Linked DNA regions of Homo sapiens. The protein of the gene in region 1 purifies or fractionates together with the protein of each later gene. This does not show direct contact. Each region holds a gene or a part of one and is shown on either strand. Other genes may lie near its edges. The genes, in order: FLYWCH2, HSPBP1 and TBC1D23.

Region 1 (7,927 bases):
TCTCCTGCCTCAGCCACGTGAGTAGCTGGGATTACAGACTCGCGCCATTAAGCCCAGCTAATTTTTGTATTTTTAGTAGAGGTGGGGTTTCACTGTGTTGGCCAGGCTGGTCTTGAACTCCTGACCTCGTGATCTGCTCACCTCAGCCTCCCAAAGTGCTGGGATTACAGGTGTGAGCCACCGCGCCGGGCCAGTGATTTTTATTATTTATTTATTTATTTATTTGAGACGGCGTCTTGCTCTGTCACCTAGGCTGGAGTGCAGTGGCGCGATCTCGGCTCACCGCAACCTCCGCCTCCTGGGTTCAAGCAATTCTCATGCCTCAGCTTTCCGGGTAGCTGGGATTACAGGTGCATGCCACCACGTCCAGCTAATTTTTGTATTTTTGATAGAGACAGGGTTTCACCATGGTGGCCAGTCTGGTCTCAAACTCCTGACCTCAGGTGCTCCATCTGCCTCGGCCTCCTAAAATGTTTGGATTACAGGCGTGAGCCACCGCGCCCAGCCACTAAAGTGATTTTTAAAAGTGTAAACACTGCCACTCACTGATTCCTTTGGTTTAAAGATATACAGTGGGTTAATTACCACTGTTTTTAATAAATCTGTTTTTAAATTTATCAGTTTAAGTTCCTTTTTTCCAAGACGGAGTCTTGCTCTGTCGCCCAGGCTGAAGTGCAGTAGCATGATCTTGGCTTACTGTAACCTGCCACCGCCACCCGCGGCTCTGGTTTAAGCAATTCTGCCTCAGCCTCTGGAGTAGCTGGGATTACAGGCACATGCCAAAACACATGGCTAATTTTTTTGTATTTCTAGTAGAGATGGGGTTTCACCATGTTGGCCAGGCTAGTCTCGAACTCCTGACCTCATGATCTGCCTGCTTCAGCCTCACAAACTGCTGGGATTACAGGCGTGAGCCACTGCACCCAGCCGTCTTGTTTTTTTTCCTCACTCTGTTGCCCAGGCTGGAGTGCAGTGGCATTGTTTTGTCTCACTGCAACCTCTGCCTCCCGGGTTCAAGCCTCCCACGTAGCTGGGATTACAGTCGCCCACGACGACCACACCCTGCTAATTTTTGTATTTTTAGTAGAGACTGGGTTTCACCATGTTGGCCAGGCTGGTCTCAAACTCCTGACCTCAGGTGATCCACCTGCCTTGGCCTCTCAAAGTGGTGGGATTACAGGCATGAGCCACTGCACCCAGCCTAAATTTCTATATAGTAAATATTGATAGATGTAACCCACATAACTAAAATCTCTCTGAGCGTCTCAATAACTAACAGTGAAAATGATGGCGGCAGGAGGCAGACAAATCCCCAGGCAGACAGAGACAGATCCCATCCCTGGTGAAACTGGCCTTCAAACCAAAGACATTTTAAAGCCTGAAAACCAAGCTACAAGTCTCTGATAAATTCATGGAACATACTGAGAACCTCTCTTCCCGTGTGGCCCACTTTCCTCTGACTGATCCCCACATTTCACCTATTTTACATACACCTACCCTTCCCTAACTGGTTGTTTACACTGTCATGCCCAATTTTGAGTGCCTTTTAAGCCTTTTTTGCATACTCAGAAACCAATCAGCATGCACTCCCCCATTCTGAGCCAATAAAAACCTCAGACTCAGCCACACTTGGGGTCTACACACCATGGCGGGGGGAACTACCCGACTTTGAGAGGGTCCCCTCTTCGCTGAGAGCTGTTTGTTAGCTCAATAAAACTCTTCACCCTGCTCACCCACTGGCTGTCAGCATAACCTCATTCTTCTTGGATGTGGGACAAGAACTCTGGAGGGTCTACCACTGGTAGGAAAAAGGCTGTAACACTGTAGCCCTCCACCCACCCCCAGAACCTGCCCAGGCAAGAGGAAATAGCAGTGGGCTGGGCCAGCCCTGAAGCTGAGGACCCAAGGGGGGCAGCGGGATTGAAAGAGCTGTAACATGACACAAATGGCGGAATGGGTGGGGTGTCTCCTGCACCGAGCCCAGGCCAAGGGAGGCCTGAACAGGGGTGCTGCTGGCCATGGAGGTCTCTGGCTGACTAAGGGGCACTGAAAAATCCTGTGTCATAAGTGGTTCTGAGACCAGAAAGTTTGAGAATTGCTGGACTAAGGAATATAAATTTTAAAACCAAGACTCACCAGGCACGGTGGCTCATGCCTGTAATCCCAACACTTTGGGAGGCCGAGATGGGTGGATCACAAGGTCAGGTGTTCAAGACCAGCCTGGACAACATAGTGAAACCCCGTCTCTGCTAAAAACACAAAAAAAATTAGCCGGGCTTAGTGGCGGGCACCTGTAATCCCAGCTACTTGGGAGGCTGAGGCAGGAGAATCACTTGAACCCAGGAGGTGGAGGTTGCAGTCAGCCGAGATCACACCACTGCACCCCAGCCTGGGCAACAAGAGTGAAACTCTGTTTCAAACAAAAACAAAAAGAAACAGAAAACAACCAAGACTCTTATCAGTCCACATGACAATACTCTGTGAATTCTCACAATGGCTGTAGGAGGTGGGTGCGTTATCACCCCCATTTATCAGGTGAAGACACTGAGGCACAGAGAGGGGATGTAATTGCTCATTCACACAGCTGGCAATTGACACAGCAGGGACTTGAACCCAAGCATCTAACCCCAAGCTTGTGCACTTCCTTGGGGACAATTTGGCTACATGTTTAAAAAGCTTTTAAAAATATTTGCCTCCTTTGACCTCTTTTAAGACTTTCAAGAAATCTTTGGCTGGGTGCGGTGGCTCACACCTGTAATCCCAGCACTTTGGGAGGCTGAGGCGGGTGGATCACGAGGTCAGGAGTTCAAGACCAGCCTGGCCAAGATGGTGAAACTCCGTCTCTACTAAAAATACAAAAAAATTAGCTGGGTGCGGTGGCAGGCGCCTGTAATCTCAGCTACTTGGGAGGCTGAGGCAGGAGAACCACTTGAACCCAGGAGGCGGAGGTTGCAGTGAGCTGAGATCGTGCTACTGCACTCCGGTCTTGCCAACAGAGTGAGACTCTGTCTCAAAAAAAAAAAATCTTTAATATCTCGACAGGCAAGGTGGCTCACATGTCTAATCCCAGCACTTTTGGAGGCCGAGGTGGGCAGATCACCGGAGGTAACTCCGGTTTGATACCAGCCTGGCCAACATGGTGAAATCCCATCTCTACAAAAATATAAAAATTAAGCATGATTACCGGTGCCTGTAATCTCAGCTACTTGGGAGGCTGAGGCGGGAAAATCGCTTGAACCCGGGAGGCGGAGGTTGCAATAAGCAGAGATCACGCCACTGCACTCCAGCCTGGGCGACAGAGCGAGACTCCATCTCAAAAAAAAAAAAAAAAAATCTTTGACATCAGAGATTCATATACAAAGATATTTATAACATCATCAAGTTAAAAACAACCAGTAGTCTGTGAATGATTAATAGATAACAGCAAATAAATGCACAAAGGTAGCTGGGCACGGTGGCTCACTCTTGTAATCCCAGCACTTTAGGAAGCCGAGGCGGGTGGATCACCTGAGGTCAGAAGTTCAATACCAGCCTGGCCAACATGGTGAAACCCGTCTCTACTAAAAGTACAAAAATTAGCCGGGCGTGGTGGCGGGCGCCCGTAATCCCGGCTACTCAGTAGGCTGAGGCATGAGAATTGCTTGAACCCGGGAGGCAGAGGTTGCAGCGAGCCGAGATCACGCCACTGCACTCCAGCCTGAGCGACAGAGCGCAATTCTCGTTTCTAAAAAAAAAAAAAAAGCACAAAGGCCTTGAATGACACCAGACAATGCCCGGGGAGATAGGATAGTGGGATGGGGGCAGCGGGAGCCTTGGTAGCGGAGTCCACGGTGGGATTCAGAGACCTGCAGAGCCAGGGCCGGGAGGGGCAGGGCAGAGGAAGGGCGTGCAGCGACGCTGGCATTCGGACGTGAGAAGGCGGAAGGTGCGGGAGGCCCCAGAGGATCTCGACCTGGACCCTGGAGCCCTGGGGCGGTGGCACATTCAGCGGCCGCTTTAGAGCGAGGGGGGCGGGGCGCGGAGCCAGGCTTAGGGGGACCAAGGTGGCCGGGGTAGTGGGGGCGACCCCGCGGGGCTGGGAGAGCCGCGGTGAGCCTAGGGGGCTGTGCGGGGGCCGCTCTGGACGCTGCAGCCAAGTGTCCCAGGAAAGCAGCGCCCAGGGCCCCACAGCTCCCTGTGCCCGGACCCAGCCCAGTCCCACTGCAGTGGGTGGCTGGAGGATGGCGAGTGTCCCGGGCACCCCTTGGGCCGGGTGAACGTGGTTGGGCACGGAGAGGGCGGGGCCCGTGGGCACGGGTGGGCCCAATGGGCCAGGGCTGGACCAATAACGAGAAAGGATGAATGGACAGGGGCTGAACTACAGAGAGAGGGCGGGACTATTGGGCGAGGGCTGGACCAATGGGCAGGGGCTAAACTAATAGACGAGGGCTGGACCAATGGCGCGGATGAGGCTGCTGCGTCGTCAAGGATGCAGAGCTTAAAGCAAGGCAGTGGCTTCCATGAGCCTAAACACCTTCCCTCCGCACGCTCGGTATCGCGACGGGGGAGAGCAAAACCTTTAAACAAATGCTCCAGTTTTCCCCGCAGAGAGCCGGAGTCAAATCCGTGAGGAAGCCCGGGGGTCGCAGTGAAGCCCAACCCACTGGTGCTGGGATAACCTCGCCCGCAACCCGGATCCAGGCCGCAGGTCCCCCGAGGCTCCGCCCCTGACGGCGACACTCAATCCCGGGTGTCCCCGCCCCCTTACTGAATTTTGGCCCCGCCTCCGCCCTCCGATTGGCCGGACGCCAGCTCTACGCCGCACGGGCAAGACGCGGAGGAGCGGCCCCAGCCAGAAGACAGGGCACCCGCGGCCTTGCTGCGCATGCTCGCGCTGTGACCCCGGCTTGAGGTAACAGCGCGAGCTGAGGCTGGGGCCCTTGGCGCGGAGGCTGAGGGACCCGCCGCGGCGCTGTCGCCGGAGAGGGAGGGCACCGCTGTCGTCGGTGAGGACGGGCCCTGGCGGGCGGGGAGGGTCCTGCGTCCTCGGCATGGACGAGTCCCCGGCCCGGCTCTCTCGGGGGTCCCGAGGGCTGCGGGTGCTGAGGAGGGGTCCGCGTCCTGGTGCTCAGGCCGCCTCCTGTGGGGTCTCCCGCGATTCCCTCTTTGCCTCTCGCCCCTCCTTCCCCACCCCCTCCAGTCCCTTGTCCAAAGCCTCAACACCCCCACACGAAGGAGGTCCGCACTCGCCCGCCGGTCCCTGGCCGTGTCCGCCGCGCCCAGCGCTGCCTTCCCGGCACCCCCCAACCCCCGCCGGCCTCGTCCCACGGTTGCAGCTCGGGAGGTCCCTGCAGGGACGGCAGCGAGTTGGAGGCGTGAGATACTGGGGCGGGGGAGACACTCGGGGCCTCAGGGTGTGGGTATTCTTGAGAGAGGAGAGAGCCGGGGAGCTGGGACCATTTGGGCGCAGCCCAGCCCGCGTTTGATGCCAATTGCATTGGGTAAAGGAGTGAAATAAAGATTCTGAGCCCTGGTGATTAGGGGAAGGAGCTGCCATGGCTGAAATTGCCATGGTGGGGAAGCTCCGCGCTGCACACCTTAGAGTAGCAGTTCTTGGCCTTCTTGGGGCAGGGGTCACTGCCGGTTTTTTAAATCTCCCTGTGAGGACGTGTACTGCACACCTTAGTGTCCCGTCATCCTGTCGGGGTCAATAACAGCCCCGCTGTGGACTGCGTGGAGCAGTAATTATTGGGGAGCAGCTGTCCATATCGTCTGGGAACTTTTGCGATGACTTCACCCTTGCCTGTCATCTATTAACAGCCCCTGATAAATTCACCACTATTTCCGTTACGCAGATGAAACCTGCTGGGAGGGTAAGGGATTTGTCCTCGCGGCTGAGGATGCCGGTGCTGGTGGACATTAGTGATGTTTCTCCCCCGTGCGTATGAAGATGATTCTGTGGGTCCACCATGAGGCACCAGGCAGGGGTCCTGTCGTCCAGAACATCGTCAGTGAGGGATTGAACCTTGTATTAGTTTCCTGTTGCTGTCCTAACAAATAAGGTGGCTTAAAGCAACACAGGCCGGGCGCGGTGGTTCACGCCTGTAATCCTAGCACTTTGGGAGGCCGAGGCAGGCAGATCACAAGGTCAGGAGATAGAGACCATTCTGACTAACATGGTGAAACCCCGTCTCTACTAAAAAAAAAAAAAAAAAAATACAAAAATTAGTCGGGGCCGGCGCGGTGGCTCACGCCTGTAATCCCAGCACTTTGGGAGGCCAAGGAGGGTGGATCACCTGAGGTCGGGAGTTCGAGACCAGCCTGACCAACATGGAGAAACCCCGTCTCAACTAAAAATACAAAATTAGCCGGGTGTGGTGGTGCACGCTTGTAATCCCAGCTACTTGGGAGGCTGAGACAGGAGAAAGGCTTGAACCCGGGAGGCAGAGGTTGCAGTGACCCAAGGTCGCGCCACTGCACTCCAGCCTGGCCGACAAGAGCGATACTCCGTCTAAAAAACAAAAACAAAAAAAAAACTCCGGGTGATTCTTAGGGATAGTGACATTGGGGAACTGCTGTTCATATGTTCATAGACTCAATTTACCTTTTTCTGAATATTTAACAACTTTATTGAGATAATTCACATACCGTGCAATTTACCCATTTAAAGTGTACATTTCGGCCGGGCGCGGTGGCTCACGCCTGTTATCCCAGCACTTTGGGAGGCCAAGGAGGGCGGATCACGAGGTCAGGAGATCGAGACCATCCTGGCTAACACGGTGAAACCCCGTCTCTACTAAAAATACAAAAAATTAGCCAGGCGTGGTGGCAGGCGCCTGTAGTCCCAGCTACTCCGGAGGCTGAGGCAGGAGAATGGCGTGAACCCGGGAGGCGGAGCTTGCAGTGAGATCACGCCACTGCACTCCAGCCTGGGCGACAGAGCGAGACTCCGTCTCAAAAAAACAAAACAAAACAAAAAAAAAAATATACAGTTCAGTGGCTTTAGTGTGATCACAAAGTTGTGCAACCCTCATGAAAATTCCTTTTAGGACATTTTCATCACCCCATAAAGCACATACCCACTAGTAGTCAATTCTCATTCTCCCCTTCCCCACCCCAATCCCGAGATAACCACAAATCTACGTTCTGTCTCCATAGATTTTCCTACTCTGTAGATTCTCTAGACTCTAAGTAATTTCATGTAAATGGAATCATATAATATGTGGTCTTTTGGGTCTGGCTTCTTTTACCGAGCATAATTTCTTCAAGGTTCATTCATGTTGTAGCATAGATTTTTTTTACTGCCAAATAATATTCCATTTTATACATGCACCACATTGTACTTATTCATTCATCCATTGATGGATATTTGGGCTGTTTTGAATATCCATCGAAACGTTTTGGCTTTCATGAATAATGCAACTGTAACATTCATGTACACATTTTTATGTGGACATGTGTTTTCCTTTCTTCCAGGCATATAGCTAGTAGTGGAATTGCTGGGTCATAGGGTAACTCTACATTTAACCTTTTGAGGAACTGCCAGGCTGGTTTCCAAAAATGGCTGCACCATTTTACATTCCCCTCAGCAGTGTATGAGGGTTCCAGTTTCTCCTCATCCTCACCAGCACTTGCTATTATCTGTTTTTTGTTTGTTTTATTATGTCCATCCTGGTGGTGTGAAGTGATATCTCATTGTGGTTTTGATTTGCATTTCCCTGGTGACTAATGATGTTGAGCATCTTCTCATATATTAGCCATTTGTATATCTTCTTTAGAGAAAAGCCTGTTTGGAGCCTTTGCCCATTATTATTATTATTGTTATTATTTTTTTTTTTTAGACGGAGTACCACTTTGATGCCCAGGCTGCAGTGCAGTGTAGTGCAGTGGCGCCACCTCGGCTCACTGAAATCTCCACCTCCCGGGTTCAAGCAATTCTCATGCTGCG
Region 2 (7,823 bases), on another chromosome or scaffold:
CCAGACCCCCAGGCCCTCCTCCCTGAAACCCAGGAGTCCAGGCCCCCAGGCCCTCCTCCCTCAGACCTAGGAGTCCAGTGCCCAGCCCCTCCTCCCTCAGACCCAGGAGTCCAGGCCCCCAGCCCCTCTCCTCCAGGACCTGAGTCTGCGCCCCCCACCCCCTCCATCCAGGGACCCAGGAGTCTGAATCCCAAGTCCCTTCTCTATGAGGGGCCCAGGGGTCTGGGCAGCCAGCCCCTGCCATTTGAATACCCTGAGTCCCGCCTCTGCCGCCACCTCCACCCTGCCCCCCGCCCCAGGTGTCCCCTTCTGCTAGGCTCACCTGTCTGTCCTTTGCCCAGCGTCTTCTCCAGCCGATAGGGGCCCACATATTGGGCGTGCTGGGGTGGGTGGGGGTGGGGGTGGGGGAGGTGGTAGGCGGGAGAGCCCCCACCTCCCTCCTTGGCCCCGGACGACATGGTGCCCTTGGTCCCGGCCCGACCGGTCCCCCGGCCGCCCCCCCTGCGGCCGTCGCCCCGTCTCTCCGGTGGGGGCCGGCGACCGCTCCGTCCCGGCCCCCCCGGCTGCCCCCCACCTCTCCGGGGGTCCCCAGGGGGCTGGGCTGGCCCCCCCCAGTCGGCGGGCCGCGGAGCTGGGGGAGGGGGGGCTGGCCCGGGGGGGTCAGGCCCCGGGAGTCAGCATGGCCCAGGGGGGCTGCGGGGCCCCCCCTCCCCAGCCCGTTTCTGGCCGGCCCCCCGCTTCCTGCGCCTCCCCCCGCCGGGGGGGTCTGAGGTGCGGGCCGGCGGATGCTGCAGGCCGAGGTCCCCCCCGCCCCCCCACGCGCCCTCTCTCCTCCGCCTCCTCCTCCTCTCCGCCTCCCCCCGCCACCTCGTCCTTTCTCTCCGGCACGCTGACATCACCATCCGGGGACTCCGGGCCCTTCCCCAAAGTTAACCCTTTCGGAGGGGGGAGGGGGAGCGAGGGGGGGCAGGGGGCGGGCCTCCAGCTGGAGGGATGGAGAGGAGGTGGGAGGATGCAGGAGAGAGGATGGAGGGAAGGATGGAGAGAGAGAGAGAGGACCCAACAGATGGGGCAGAGATGGAGATACACAAAGAGAGATGCTGGCTGACACAGAGACGGGAGACAGGCAGAGACGCCAGAGGGATGGAGACCACCAGAGACAGGCTGAGGCAGAGAGGGAGGAAGGGCAGAGATGGACAGGGACAGAAGAGAAGGAAGGAATGGCAAGCCGGGAAAACAGACAGGGAGAGGGAGAGAAAGCTGCTGGAAGCCGACAGAGGGATGGAGAGAGTCAGAGATTCAGAGAGACAGAGAGAGGAAGACCAACCAGAGAGGTGGGGGAGAGGGGGCGCAGATGGAGCTGTAGAGAGGGCCGGGGGTACACACAGGTGGAGGGACACGTGCTGGGGAGAGGTGGGGACATATGGAGGGAGACAGAGACAGAGAGGGGAAAGAATTCTTGGAGTTGCTGACCCAAAATTCATGTCTGTTTCCCCAGCCCCCTAAGGCCACCCATTCAGGGTAAGGGTAAGTCTGTGTCCCCACCAATGTCAAGGCCCCATATCTACCCACAGCCCAGAGTGATTTTGGATTCTCTTTACAGAGAAGCTTCCAGAACCCCCTCAGTTTCCCTGTGTTATGTTTTTAGACCCCCATATATTCTCTGTGCTCGTCATAGGGTCCTTTATATCTTCATGTGGACCCCAGTACAGCCCATACATCCCCACTGTAGCAGGTCCACAAGCATGTGCTCTGCCTGTGAGTAACCCGCCTGCCCCCATTAGCTTTCCGCATAAACCATAGATCCCTCTATGTCATGTACCCGCAAGTGTTAGACACCCATTTAATTCTCAAGTCCCCTGTAAAGCACACCCAGGGCTGGGCAAGGTGGCTCATGCCTGTAATCCCAATACTTTGGGAGACAGAGGTGGGAAGATCAGCCTGGGCAACACAGTGAGACCCCATCCCTACAAAAATTTTTTTAAAAATTAGCCGGGCATGGTGGCATGTGCCTGTAGTCCCAGCTACTTGGGAGGCTGAGGCTTGAGTCAGTGAGTTCTAGGCTGCAGTGAGCTACGTTTGCACCACTGCACTCCAGCCTGAGCAACAGAGTGAGGCCCTGTCTCTAACAAAAATAAAATAAAATAAAGTGCACACAGGAGCCTATTGGCTCCTGTGAGATTTCCCAGTCCCCCATTCAACACCTTGAGTCCACACATCTTTAATGAGTGCCAAATCTCAGCCAGGCACTGTTCCTGTTGGTAAGAACGTGGCAGTGACCTAAATCAGCAAAAAGGCCTGTCCTGTGGAGCTTCCATGCTGGTGGATGAAACAGATGATCAGCAAGGTCAATAGGCAAAATGTATGGTGTGTTAGATAATCATGTCCGTGCTGAGGAGGTGACTACAGCAGGGAAGGGGGTTAAGAGGGGCCTGTTGAGCAGGGTACAATTTTAGGCGTCCGGCTTTTTTTGTATTTTTAGTAGAGATGGAGTTTCACCCTGTTAGCCAGGCTGGTTCTGTAGCCTTTTTTTTTTTTTTTTTTTTTTTTTTTTTTTTTTTTTGAGACGGAATCTTGCTCTGTCTCCCAGGCTGGAGTGCAGTGGCACAATCTCAGCTCACTACAACCTCCACATCCTGGGTTCAAGCGATTCTCCTGCCTCAGCCTCCCGAGTAGCTGGGATTATAGGCACCCGCCACCATGCCTGGCTAATTTTTGTATTTTTAGTAGAGATGGGGTTTCACCATGTTGGTCAGGCTGGTCTCAAACTCCTGACCTTGTGATTTGCCCACCTCAGCTTCCCAAAGTGCTGGGATTACAGGCGTGAGCTACCACACCTGGCCTGGTTCTGTAACTATTGAGTCCCTTTTTGCTCTCAAATGTCTTGCTATAGATGAAAAATTATATGATCACCCTCTTTTTTTTGTTTTGTTTTGTTTTTTGAGACAGGGTCTTCCCCCTGTTGCCTAGGCTGGGGTGCAGTAGGGCAGTCATAGTTCCCTGCAGCCTCGACCTCCTGGGCTCAAGTGATCCTCCTGCCTCAGCCTCCTGCCTAGCTGTGATATAAGCAGATGCCATCACACATGGCTAATTCTTGTATTTTTTTGTAGGGCTGGGGACACACTATGTTGCCCAGGCTGGTCTCGAGCTCTTGGGTTCAAGTGATCCTCCCACCTTGGCCTCCCAAAGTACTGAGATTATAGACCTGAGCCACTGCCCCCGGCCATGTATTATAAACTGATAGACTTGTACATAGATGTCCGTGTCCTAATTCCCAGGATCTGTGCATAAGTTACCTTGCATGGCTGAAGGGACTTTGCCCATGTGACTGAGATAGGGAGATTATCCCAGTTATTTGGGTGAGCTCGATGGAATCACAAGAGTATTTGTGAGAAGGAGGCAGGAGGAGCAGTCAGTGATGGAGATGGGAAGGTGGAAGCAGAACTTGGGGTGATGGGGCCACCTGTCAAAGAAAGAGTGTGGCCTCTAGAAGCTGGAAAAGGCAAGAAAAACATTCTCCCCGAGAGCCTCCAGAAGTGATGCAATCCTGCTGACAGTTTGATTTCAGCCCCGTGAAACCCATTTTGGATTTCTGCCCTCCATAACTGCAAGATAATAAATGTGTGCTGTTTTAAGCCACCACATTCTTAGTAATTTGTTAACAGCAGCAATAGGAAACTAATATAATAGCACATCCACAGGCCCAGATGCATCTCACAGCACAGTGCTAGAAACACCACACACACACACACACACACACACACACACACATACACACACAACCTATCTGTTTGGTCTTCCTGTTTCTGCCCAAAATATCCCCCTGCACAACCACGCCCAGCAGGTGATTGATACGTTTGTGACTGTGTGCCCGTTTTGCGTTGAGCACAACCTTTTCCTGGAGGAAAACGCCTCCTATCCAGGATCAACACGGGAGTTTCTTTAAGCCCAGCCCAGGGCCAACACCTCTGCAGATCGGCCCGCACCAGCACGTGCCCAGGCCTAAACCCCACTTCTGGAGCACAGAGGCCTCGGGCCTCCCCACCAAGCTGGCTCCTCTGGCGCTCTGAATCTTGCTGGGCTCTGGGGCACTTTGCTTTCCGGCTCTAGGCCTCAAGAATCCTCTCCTCTCCACCTGGCAGGACATGGGGAAGAGTCCATGAGGGAGAGGCTGGGTGATGAGAGGGATCCACGCCGCAGCTCCACTTGACAGATGGAGAAACTGAGGCCGAGAGAGGGGTTGCGGGGGGCATAAGGCTCACAGGCCAGCCATTACGGTTGCGACCCCAGGGCTCCTGTAGATGGGGTTGGTGGCCCCGGTGGAGGCGAAAGTCAGATTAGTTGGGGCGAGGTCCCAAACCTTCTAAGGATGACTGACAGCAATGAGTGGGAGGGGCCTGTAAAGGGGCCGGGGCCCAACTGGGAGAGTCTGAAAGGCCTAGAGCAGGGGCGGGAATCGTAGGGTGGGCGGGGTCAGACCTGGGGGCGGGGCACACGTTAGAAGAGGGGTGGAGCTTGCAAAAGTATCGGGGGCGGGACTCGCTGAGGTGCGAAAACTGGGCCAGGGGCAGGGCTTTGACCAGCTACTTGAGCGTGAAGGGGCGGCGCCCGCACGAAGGGGCGTCCCAGCTTGGAGGCGGGGCCCGGATGGGAGGGGCGGGGCCGAGTGCAGTATCCCGCCAGGTGAGAAGGGGATAAGAGTCGGGCAAGCAGCTTCAGCCGCAACCACGGCACGAAGTTGGGTGGGTACGCCTGGCACTTCCGGGTGAAACCGTGCGTATTTCCGGTTAAGATGGCGGCGCCCAGCAGAGTCAGGTGCGGACGACTTTGTCTGTAGGAGCAGCGGCGGCTTGAGGACCCGGGGAGGTGAGATCCGCCTTATTCCGGCGCCCCTCTTCGGAGAGGAGGGAGAAGACTTGTTGCTAAGGAGACCAAAGGGCGGGCTTGTTGCTACGGAGGCGGAGCAGTGAGGTTGCTAAGAGACGGGACGCACGCAGTGGAGATGGGGAAGGGGGGTTGTTGCCAGGGAGAGTGGGTGGGGCCTGTTGCTAGGGAGAAAGGAGAGGCTTATGACTTTGGGGAAGGGTCCTGTGGGTATGAAGGAAGGAAAAGGGGCTGTGGTTAAGTGGGCTGGGGGCAGAGTGGTTTGGGGTCATGGGGGGTCGCCGAGCTCCCCTGAAACGCCGCCTTCTCAGCAGACCCTCAAGAATCGACCCATCAGGACGCCAGAGCTGCTTCAGCGGTGACCACCTTCTCCCTCTAACACATTCTTCCCTTCTTCACAAACGGCCCATGTCAGACGAAGGCTCAAGGGGGAGCCGCCTGCCCCTGGCGCTGCCCCCGGCCTCCCAGGGTTGCTCTTCAGGGGGCGGCGGCGGCGGCTCCTCGGCTGGGGGCTCGGGCAATTCCCGGCCCCCACGCAACCTCCAAGGCTTGCTGCAGATGGCCATCACCGCGGGCTCTGAAGAGCCAGACCCTCCTCCAGAACCGATGAGTGAGGAGGTAAAGGATGGGGACCCAAGAAGCTGGGGTGAGGGGCCTGGGGACAGATAGAGTTGCCTTGGGAAGTGTGACTTGGGGAGCCACAAGAAGACTAGGGTCTTCTTGGGTGGGAGGCAGAAAACCAGGTGTGGAGGCATTGTGGGCTATAAATTGTGCTAGATGGGGTTATCGTTGACTGAAGGTCAGATCTCAAGAGAGTCTGAGGGGACATATCCTCTCCAGAGCCAGACTAACCTGGATTCAGCATTTCCAGCTGTGTGACCTTGGGTATATTACTTCATCTTTCTGAATCTCAAGTTCTTCATTTACAAATTGATAATAATAATAACTACCGTATAGGGTAGTTCTGAGGTTCTACTTTAAGTAGGGCTGCACACAGTGCCCAGCATACAGACAGTGCTTCTGAAGGCAGCAGTGTGTTTTCATGAAGAGCACAGGCTCTGTAGTCAGACTGCTGTTTTTTTTTTTTTTTTTTGGTGGGGGCAGGGTTGGGGGTGGAGGACACAGTCTCGGCTGGAGTGCAGAGGCGCAGTCTTGGCTCACTGCAACCTCTGACTTCCCGGTTCAAGCAATTCTCATGCCTCAGCGTCCCCAGTAGCTGGGATTAGAGGCATGGGCCACCATGCCTGGCTAATTTTCGTATTTTTAGTAGAGAAGGGGTTTCACTACATTGGCCAGGCTGGTCTCGAACTCCTGGCGTCAAGTGATCCACCTGCCTCGGCCTCCCAAAGTGCTGAGATTACAGATGTGAGCCAGCACGCCCAGCCTAGACTGCTTGGGTTTGATTTCAGGCTTTGCCAATTGCTGACTGTGTGACCTTGGGTAAGTCTCAACCTTTCTGTGACTCAACTTTCTCATCTGCGAAGTGGGGATAACAATGATATATACCTCATAGAGTTGTTTTGCAGATTCATAGCGATAGCTATTATATATAATGTTTAATCGACAATTACTGTATACAGAGCATTATGCTAACCCACTTACATATATGATATCATTGAACCTTTACAACAGTGAGGCATGAAACAGGCACAGAAACATTAAATAGCTCACTCAAATTTACTTAGAACTGTGACTAAGGAGACCTCTGCTCCCCTCCCTCACCCCCAAAAATTCCAGCAGTCACGTATTAGCTCTCATCTCCTTTTTCTTTGAGATAGTCTCACTGTGTTGCCCAGGCTGGAGTGCAGTGGCCTGATCTTGGCTCACTGCAACCTCTGTCTCTCAGGTTCAAGCGATTCCCTTTGCTGCAGCCTCCCGAGTAGCTGGGATTACAGGCTCACGCCACCAGGCCTGGCTAATTTTTGTATTTTTAGTAGAGACGGGGTTTCACCATGTTGCCCAGGCTGGTCTCAAACTCCTGAGCTCAGGCAGTCTACCCACCTCGGCCTCCCAAAGTGCTGGGATTACAGGGATGAGCCACAGCTCCCAGCCGATATTTGTTGACTGAAGGAACATCAGCCCTCAGTTGTTGGCTGTCTTTATTAATGGCTGTTCCTTTGTAATGAATGACTGATGGATCTCCTTCTTTCCTCCTCGCCTTGGTCTCCAGAGGCGTCAGTGGCTGCAGGAGGCCATGTCGGCTGCCTTCCGAGGCCAGCGGGAGGAGGTGGAGCAGATGAAGAGCTGCCTCCGAGTGCTGTCACAGCCCATGCCCCCCACTGCTGGGGAGGCCGAGCAGGCGGCCGACCAGCAAGAGCGAGAGGGGGCCCTGGAGCTGCTGGCCGACCTGTGTGAGAACATGGACAATGCCGCAGGTACCCCGCTTCCCCCGCCAGGACGTTCTGCCCCTCTGTACATGTCCTGCTGCCTCTCAGCTCTTGCCCCTACTCTTGGGGCTCACACCGTCAGCCTCCCTGCTGCCTTCTCACCATCAGCCTGTTCGCCTCCATTGCCATAAGGAGCAAGGCTCTGCCTCACCCTCATGGCAGGTGGAGTCCCCCACTTCCCTGATCAGCTCTGAGATGGCTGTTTCTCTCCTAGTCCTCTGGGTGTCCACTGCCACTCCCCAGAGTACAAGAGGGAAAGTGGCATGGGTGGGGTGGCAGAGAAGGCCTCCCCGGGGTGACGTTTGATCAGAGACCTGAAGTGAGGTGAGAGTTGTGGGATGATCTCTGGGAAAAGCATTCCAGACAGTAGGAACAGCCAGTGCAAAGGCCCTGAGGCCAGAGTGTGCCTGGTGTGTTCAGGAACAGCAGCCAGGCCCTTGAGGCAGAGTAGAGTGAGTGAGGGGCCAGGCGCAGGAAACAGCGCTGGGGTGGGCCTCGCAGATGGGGAGGTAAATGCTGTTTTACTCCAAGCAGCAGAGCTCACAGAAGGTT
Region 3 (7,102 bases), on another chromosome or scaffold:
TGGTTTCATTTTCATGAATGGAGGAACCCTAACATGGTCGGTGATTTCTGTTTTCCCTCCATCCTCTTCTAATCTTTCTCCTTTTTATCCTGGCACTCTCATCAGCCCCCCAGAAGAGGATTTGAATAGGAAGACTTTGGGATTGGGAGCCAGAGGTTCAGTAAAGGCTCTGTTCTTAGAGTGCTTGGTGAATGGGTTATAGAATGGGGATGCTTTACTCTTGTTTTGTTTTGTTTTGTTGAAGAAACGAGGTCTCGCCATGTTGCCCAGGCTGGCCTCATACTCCTGAGTAGCTGGGGACTACAGGTGTGCCCCATCCATCCGGGTGTTCTACTCTGTCTTTCTCTCCCCTCCCCCTCCCTCCCTCTCTTTCTTTATCTCTCTTTCTTTTTGGAGTAAATGTTTTTATTTTAACTCTGTCAGATGGAATTTTTTCTAAAATGTATCATATATCTTACTGCCTAGCTCAAACTCATCTTAATGACTTGAGTCATTCAGTTTACAAATGTAAGTGTAATTTAAGGATAGAACTAGGTCTCTGTCCTCAGGGAATTTATGTTCTAGATACAGGAGGCATGTTTGAGAACATCGATTACTTTTGTGTTATTGTAATGTGGTGAGACTTTTAGGGCCTATCTAGACAAATTGTTGCTATGTTAAGTGACACAGCTATCCCTTTTTGAGATTGCTTTTTATAAGTTTTTCCTATTTTCTTTTTTTGTTGTCAGTGGTATCTCAATTTGTTCCTAGTCTGTGAAACTAAGCCATTGAACTTGTTGAAATTGTATATACATTCTTAAAAAGGCTCAGGATGGACCTTGAAGATCTTAAAAGTATGTGGACTCTATGACATTGTTTTTGCTGATTTTCAGTTATGTTCTAGTTCACTGCTTCTCAAAATTTAAACGTACATTGGAATTATCTGGGGAGCTTGTTAAAATGCTCTCCAGGTAACTGTGATTGTGATTCAATATATTTTGAGGTGGAACTTGAGAGTCTCTGTTTCTGACTAGCTGCTGGGGGTTGCCAATTCTGGTGGTTTATGGACCACACTTAAGTTAGCAGGGTTCTAGGTTATATATATATCAGAATGAGTAGGTCAGAGGAATTTGTATATGTCACATTGTATCACCTTACATGTTATACTAAAATATGTGTAATTACATGACTTATCATTGTTCTTTAGATAATGAACTTCTCAAGGGCAGTGGCTGATAAAAGGCAGGTGTCTCAGTAAATGTTTATTGAATGAATGTACGCATGAATGAAAACTTTCCTGTAATTATGTGCAATAGCATACTAAGCTGTCATTTCATATAAATTTCCTGACTCCAGTGTTTTTGTGAGCTGTGGAATTGTCTGTTGGTATAATGCTTATTCTTTATGGAAAGCCAAAGTAATCAGAAAATGCCTCAGCTTTCAAGCTCCCTGGGATTCAGCCATGTAAGCTCAAAGGGTGTGGTGAAATTCTTGTAAAAATGCTTATAGTTAGTTTTAAGTGATTTGAATTTAATTTTAAAAAATTAATATAAGTTATGAGAATCTGGATTTGTAAAATTAAACATGTTAAATTGTTACAGTGAAAAGATTGGTAATTACCCTCCTTGGTATTGAAGAAACTAGCACTGGATTTGAACATATGTTCTCATTTTCCGATACTTTCTTCCCAAAATAATGTCTAAAGATCTATAGTCATAATTAAAAAATTATTTTGGTATTGACTTCAATTATATAACTGTTGAAATTGGGAGTTTGTTTAATTAAAAAATGTTACTTAATATTCAACTTTTAATTAGGGTTTTTTATTGCTAAACCTTTCTTAAGTTATTGCTAAACTTTTCTTAAAATTGTAAAAATATTAATTCCACAAAGAATCTTCTATTGTTGTTAATCTGAGATGTGAGTAGGAATTGTTTGAGAATAATATTTTTCAAAGTTTTCTGCACTCTGTAAATAGTACTATCAGTGTTCCCCATTTAATAAGCATTGAAATATGAGAAAAAACTTAAAATGTCTTTTAAGAACTAAGTGATTGAAATTTCAGATATGATATAATCAATAAAGAAATATATTAAATGTAAAAGAAAAAGGAACTGTTTGTCTAAGAAGGACATTGTCTACTTGTGGAACTGGGAAGGCTGGATACTACTTTTAGAAGAAATGAGAAAATGAACTTCATTTTTTGAATTGGGGTTATGATGTGACAGTTATTTGATTTTGTAAACTATAATTAGAGGGCAGGCAAAGATAAGAAATGAAAAAGACTTATTTTATACTGTTTACATTAAAGTCTTTAATTATAATTTAGATTTTAGAGTTTTTAAAGGTAATTTTTTTTTTTTTGAGACGGAGTCTCATTCTGTCACCCAGGCTGGAGTGCAGTGTGCGATCTTGGTTCACTGCATCCTCCGCCTCCTGGGTCCAAGGGATTCTCCTGCCTCAGTCTCTCAAGGAGCTAAGATTACAGGCATGTGCCACCATGCCCGGCTAATTTTTGTATTTTTAGTAGAGATGGGGTTTCACCATGTTGGCCAGGCCGGTCTCAAACCCCTGACCTCAGGTGATCCACCCTCCTCACCCTACCACAGTGTTGGGACTACAGGCATGAGCCACTGCACCCAGCCTAAAGGTAATTCTTAGGTAATAATTCACTTCTAGGATTTTGTTTCCTGTGGATGTTTTAATATCCATAATTTGAGTTAGTAATTGGTTTTTGCATGCTAAATAAATGTATTTCAATTAATTCATTTTTATCTCTGTGTAATCACTGCAGAGAGGCGACAAGTGCATTCCCTCTGTAAGTATAGTGAGCAATTCAGAGCACCCAGTTAAATATACTGTAATATGCAGCCAACTTTTAAGTAGGAGTCTTCTGGAGAGAATTGAGAAAATATGCTTGACAAAGCATTTCTGATGCACAGTGCTGAAATGTGGATTCTTTTTGGTATAAAGACAGTGCCTTCTCTCATGTGTCAAAAAGCAAAATAGAGTTTAGCAAAAACATTCTCAGTTCAGCAAACATTCACTGAATAGTGGTTATATTCAAGCTGCTGTGTAAGGTTTTAGAAAAAAATTTGAAACAGTTTTACAATCAGGAATGTGCATTGTGGTGCCTTCCTGGGATACTTTGATTTTTTTCATCATTTTATCTCTAGGAATACTGTGTGAAAATAGCTTCTGAAGATATCTAAATGCTGGTGTTTTGGAAATTACAGGCTCTAACAGAAAATAATAGGATTAAACAGTTTGAAAAGGGGCAGGGCTTGAAATGAGTTAAATATTGAGAATTACAGATGGAAAGCAGGTAAGTACCTTCCATTAAGCTCATAAAATCAAATTCTTTCTTGTAGAAATAAAGAATTTAAGAGCCACTTAAACCTATTTTCTGAAATTTAATGTCTGTTTGTTTCAAGGGTCTGCGTAACTTTTTAACCTGAGTTAAGAAAATGATGACTAATAAAGTCATTTGTTGCAAGTCTTCATCTTTTTTCTTGATGCTTAAAGGAGTTTTTTCTTATCCTTTAGCTGACATAGCATTTGATAGTTGGGTGGAAATCTTGTAGTGTTTGCTTCTTTTTTATTTTAAAGTAGTTGTTACATTAAACTAGTTGTTATGGTGGTATTTAATAATTTCAGCAAGGAGATATACAGGTTGAATATCTCTTTGGAATACTTGCATTATACTTAACCGGTTGAGCATCCCTAATCAAAAATCTGAAATCCATAATGCTCCAATGAGCATTCCTGTGAGTATCATGTTGGTGCTCAAGAGTTTCAGATTTTGGAGCATTTCGGAGTTGGGATTCTTGGATTTGGGATGCTCCACCTATATAAGAAAATACTGTACATTTGCATAGAGCGTTACTCTTTATATATAATGCTTATATATATTAATAACATCTCATTTGGATCTTAAAACAGCTCTATGAGAAAGCAAAGTTATGCATTGGGCATGATGGCTCATGCCTATAATCCCATCACTTGGGGAGGCCAAGGTGGGAGGATTGCTTGAGCTCAGGAGTTCGAGACCATCCTGGGCAACATAGTGAGGCCTCGTCTTTACTAAAAATAAAAAAAATTAGCCAGACTTGGTGGCACAAACCTGTAGTCCCAGCTACTTGGGAGGTTGAGGCAGAAGGATTGCTTTAACGGGATGAATCGAGGCTGCAGTGAGCTGTGCACACCAAGCCTGGTGACAGAGTGAGACTCTGTCTCTAATAATAATAATAATGATGTCCATGGGTTATTTTTCCTTTAAACAGTTTCTAACCTTTATTTTGAAGCCTCTGTGCATCACTTTGTGATGCAAAAGATTTATTCATCTCATATATATGTGCAATTTGAATACTAGAAATCCTTTATTTTGTGAATTCCATTTAGATTAACCATCAGCATGAAATTCAATGAAATCCTTTTATCAAAAAAAATGTTCCTTGATGGTTGGAATCCAGCTTAAAAAAAAACCCAATATGTATTTCTTTGCCAAACTATGATCCCCATTGGCATAGTACCCTTGAGAATTGTCCAAATGTTGCAAAGTGTTGTCACTTCATTTGCTGTAGTTGTTTCTTTATAACAACTATGTTTCTGAAATGATAGTTTCAAGACAAGGAATGTTGGTAATGTTTCTTTTATCATTACACTTTGGATAAAGTGGAAATTTGTAATTGACATAGGTAATATCTCTCTCTCTTTGCTGTTTTCGTGCCATTCTCTATCTTAGGCAAAAGTTACACTCTGTTTTTAGTTTCCAAATAAACTGCATTAGTGGGGTGGAAAAACAAGGATGCATTTCTTTGTGCCTTAAAAATACTGAAAAGTCACCTCATATGTATAGAAGGGAACAGTGTTGAGGATTTTTATTTTAAGAAAACATGAAAGAAGAAAGGATTTAGAGTGCTCGCTGAAGTTGACTGCTCATTAGAGAAATTTCCAATTTTGTAGTCAAAATCTTATAGCAAATGCATTGCAACATTACACATATAGTTATGAGAAACGTTTTTTGTGTATCTTTTTATTTTTTACTTAGGCAACAACTGAGTTTTTTTCTTAGCAGAGAAAAGGGCACCGTTGGTACCATTGGTGTAATTTGATCTTCATGGATTGTGGATCAAAAATAAATCTAAGATTTAAAACACCTGTTCCATTTGTAGTTAATTTTAGTAGCTTATAGAATAACATTTCTGTGATCTCTAGCCCTTTTGCCTATTGCATACAATGATGAAATACTGTAGCTATTAAATTTGCCTTGTGAAGCCAAGAGGACTAGATTTAGCACCGTCTTTACTTGGCTCAAGATCCTGATTAAAACACAAATTCTAGAGATTACATTATTCATAAGGGAATCTCCCAAAGCTGTTTTTGTGGATCTGGTCCTAATGCAAAATTTTACAAATTGTTTAAAGCTGGTGAATGGGTGTTTTTCCCCTTGGCATATAAATTTGTAACTTGTTAAAATGCTTGTAACAAGCATGTCTGATTCTGACACAAATCTAGATAACTTCACAATTATCAAATTGTATCAAATTGTTCTCACAAGACTTTAAGTTGTCAAGGTCTTTTCTGAATGTGCTATCATACTATTGAAATACTTGGAAAGTTTTGATGGTTTGAGGTTGGTATTTAAAAATAAGTTGCACAAGACATACTGTGGTCCTTGAGCTCCATGCATATCTACTGTACAAGTGAATCTGTAGCAAAGTTTTCTCTTTTCATTTCTACCAAATGTCATACAGAATATTCAAGAACTAATTAAGGAGTTTTGTTATGGTAGTACTTTGTAACCAGCGTCCTAACAATAGTAGCAAAATAAGTTCAGACAAAGCTTTGGTGCTGATGTCTCATTCCCTGGGCATTAAGAAACCCCCAGAAATGTGGTGGCACAAATTAAGCCATGAAACCACAATTCAATACATGCAGCTTGCCACTGCTTACTCACTGTTCCACAATTTGCTAGTGCTTATGACTAATTAGGTATTCACTTTAGAGTTTTAAGTAATTGGTCAGAGGCTTATACCTGATTAGGATATGTACATGGACAAGCTGGGCTGTCATGGTTTAATCTGAGCTTACAGTGATTTACATTCTAAACAAATATGAATAAATTGCACTTCAGAGCCGCTCCCACCTCTGTTCAACAGGATTTAGATGATAGGACTTGGACTAGAACCTTGGAATAGCCATCTGGCATGTAAGCTACATAAGAGCATTGACTTTTTTTTTCTGTACTGCATCCCCTGTGCCTCACACAGTGAGTAGCCTGTAGTAGGTGCTCAATACATACGTGTTGAAGGTTTGAATAAAAGAATACTTATGTCAGGGAAGGAAATAATTCAGTATATGGGTTAGGAAAGCAGAGGAAAATCTAAATGAGAGTGTTTTAAGAAGACAGTCAAACTTTGCAGTGTATGTAAAGGGGACGAGAGCTGAGAAAGATGACTAATGACTTCTGAGAGCACCTTTAGTAGAGTGATAGAGGTTTTGGGTGAATGAGAGAGTAAGTTTAGGTGAGTGGAGACTACTGTTTTCAAGGAAGTTGAACTGTAAAAGGAAGGAGAGAGATGACTTTTTGATGGGGAGTAGGTTATATTTATATATAGGACCCTTTAAGTAAGTAAATGTGAAAATTTTAAAGGAAAGGAGATAATCACAGGTTATATTTTTGAATGCTAGAAGTACTTTCAGTGAAGGTTTCTGAGTTCATTTGTTTTCTCTTGGCTCTGTTTAATACTGTTAGCAGACTCACAGGTTTGAATAATATCATATGCAATAGAAATAACATATTTAAGATGTTATTTTTTAACATCATGTCAGGCTTTGGGCTTTTATTGATTTCCCAGTAGTGTAGCTTTTGTATTTTTATTTTAAGAAAACAATAATAAATCTTAGACTTTGGCCACTTTAAGACACAATATTAATTTTTTTTAATGTGGTAATTGGATTTTCTTTGTAATTTCTCTATACTCTGCATTTAAGTGTAGAGTGATTACATACATTATAGACCCTACTTGGTCCTTTAAAAACTGCTAGTCTTCATTATTTTTATAATTACAGAAAAGGATTCAATTTTAAGAATTTTGAAGATTAGTGAAGCTGACTTAGC

Evidence for each region.
Region 2: the proteins of FLYWCH2 (region 1) and HSPBP1 purify together in Homo sapiens (affinity purification with mass spectrometry; 2 studies listed by BioGRID and IntAct, with this or other methods). This does not show direct contact.
Region 3: the proteins of FLYWCH2 (region 1) and TBC1D23 purify together in Homo sapiens (affinity purification with mass spectrometry; 3 studies listed by BioGRID and IntAct, with this or other methods). This does not show direct contact.

The regions. Positions count from the first base shown.
Region 1 is NC_000016.10:2,878,382-2,886,308, forward strand, and holds the start of FLYWCH2 (FLYWCH family member 2), read left to right. Parts: upstream 1-4,833; 5' UTR 4,834-4,985; intron 4,986-7,927.
Region 2 is NC_000019.10:55,277,078-55,284,900, reverse strand, and holds the start of HSPBP1 (hsp70-binding protein 1), read left to right. Parts: upstream 1-4,790; 5' UTR 4,791-4,866; exon of another isoform or gene 4,867-4,971; intron 4,972-5,044; exon of another isoform or gene 5,045-5,154; coding exon of another isoform or gene 5,155-5,292; coding exon 5,293-5,502; intron 5,503-7,054; coding exon 7,055-7,259; intron 7,260-7,823. Other genes in the region: serine/threonine-protein kinase BRSK1, read right to left, coding at 323-458. UniProt on the Homo sapiens protein: Inhibits HSPA1A chaperone activity by changing the conformation of the ATP-binding domain of HSPA1A and interfering with ATP binding. Interferes with ubiquitination mediated by STUB1 and inhibits chaperone-assisted degradation of immature CFTR.
Region 3 is NC_000003.12:100,263,945-100,271,046, forward strand, and holds part of TBC1D23 (TBC1 domain family member 23), read left to right. Parts: intron 1-7,102. UniProt on the Homo sapiens protein: Putative Rab GTPase-activating protein which plays a role in vesicular trafficking. Involved in endosome-to-Golgi trafficking.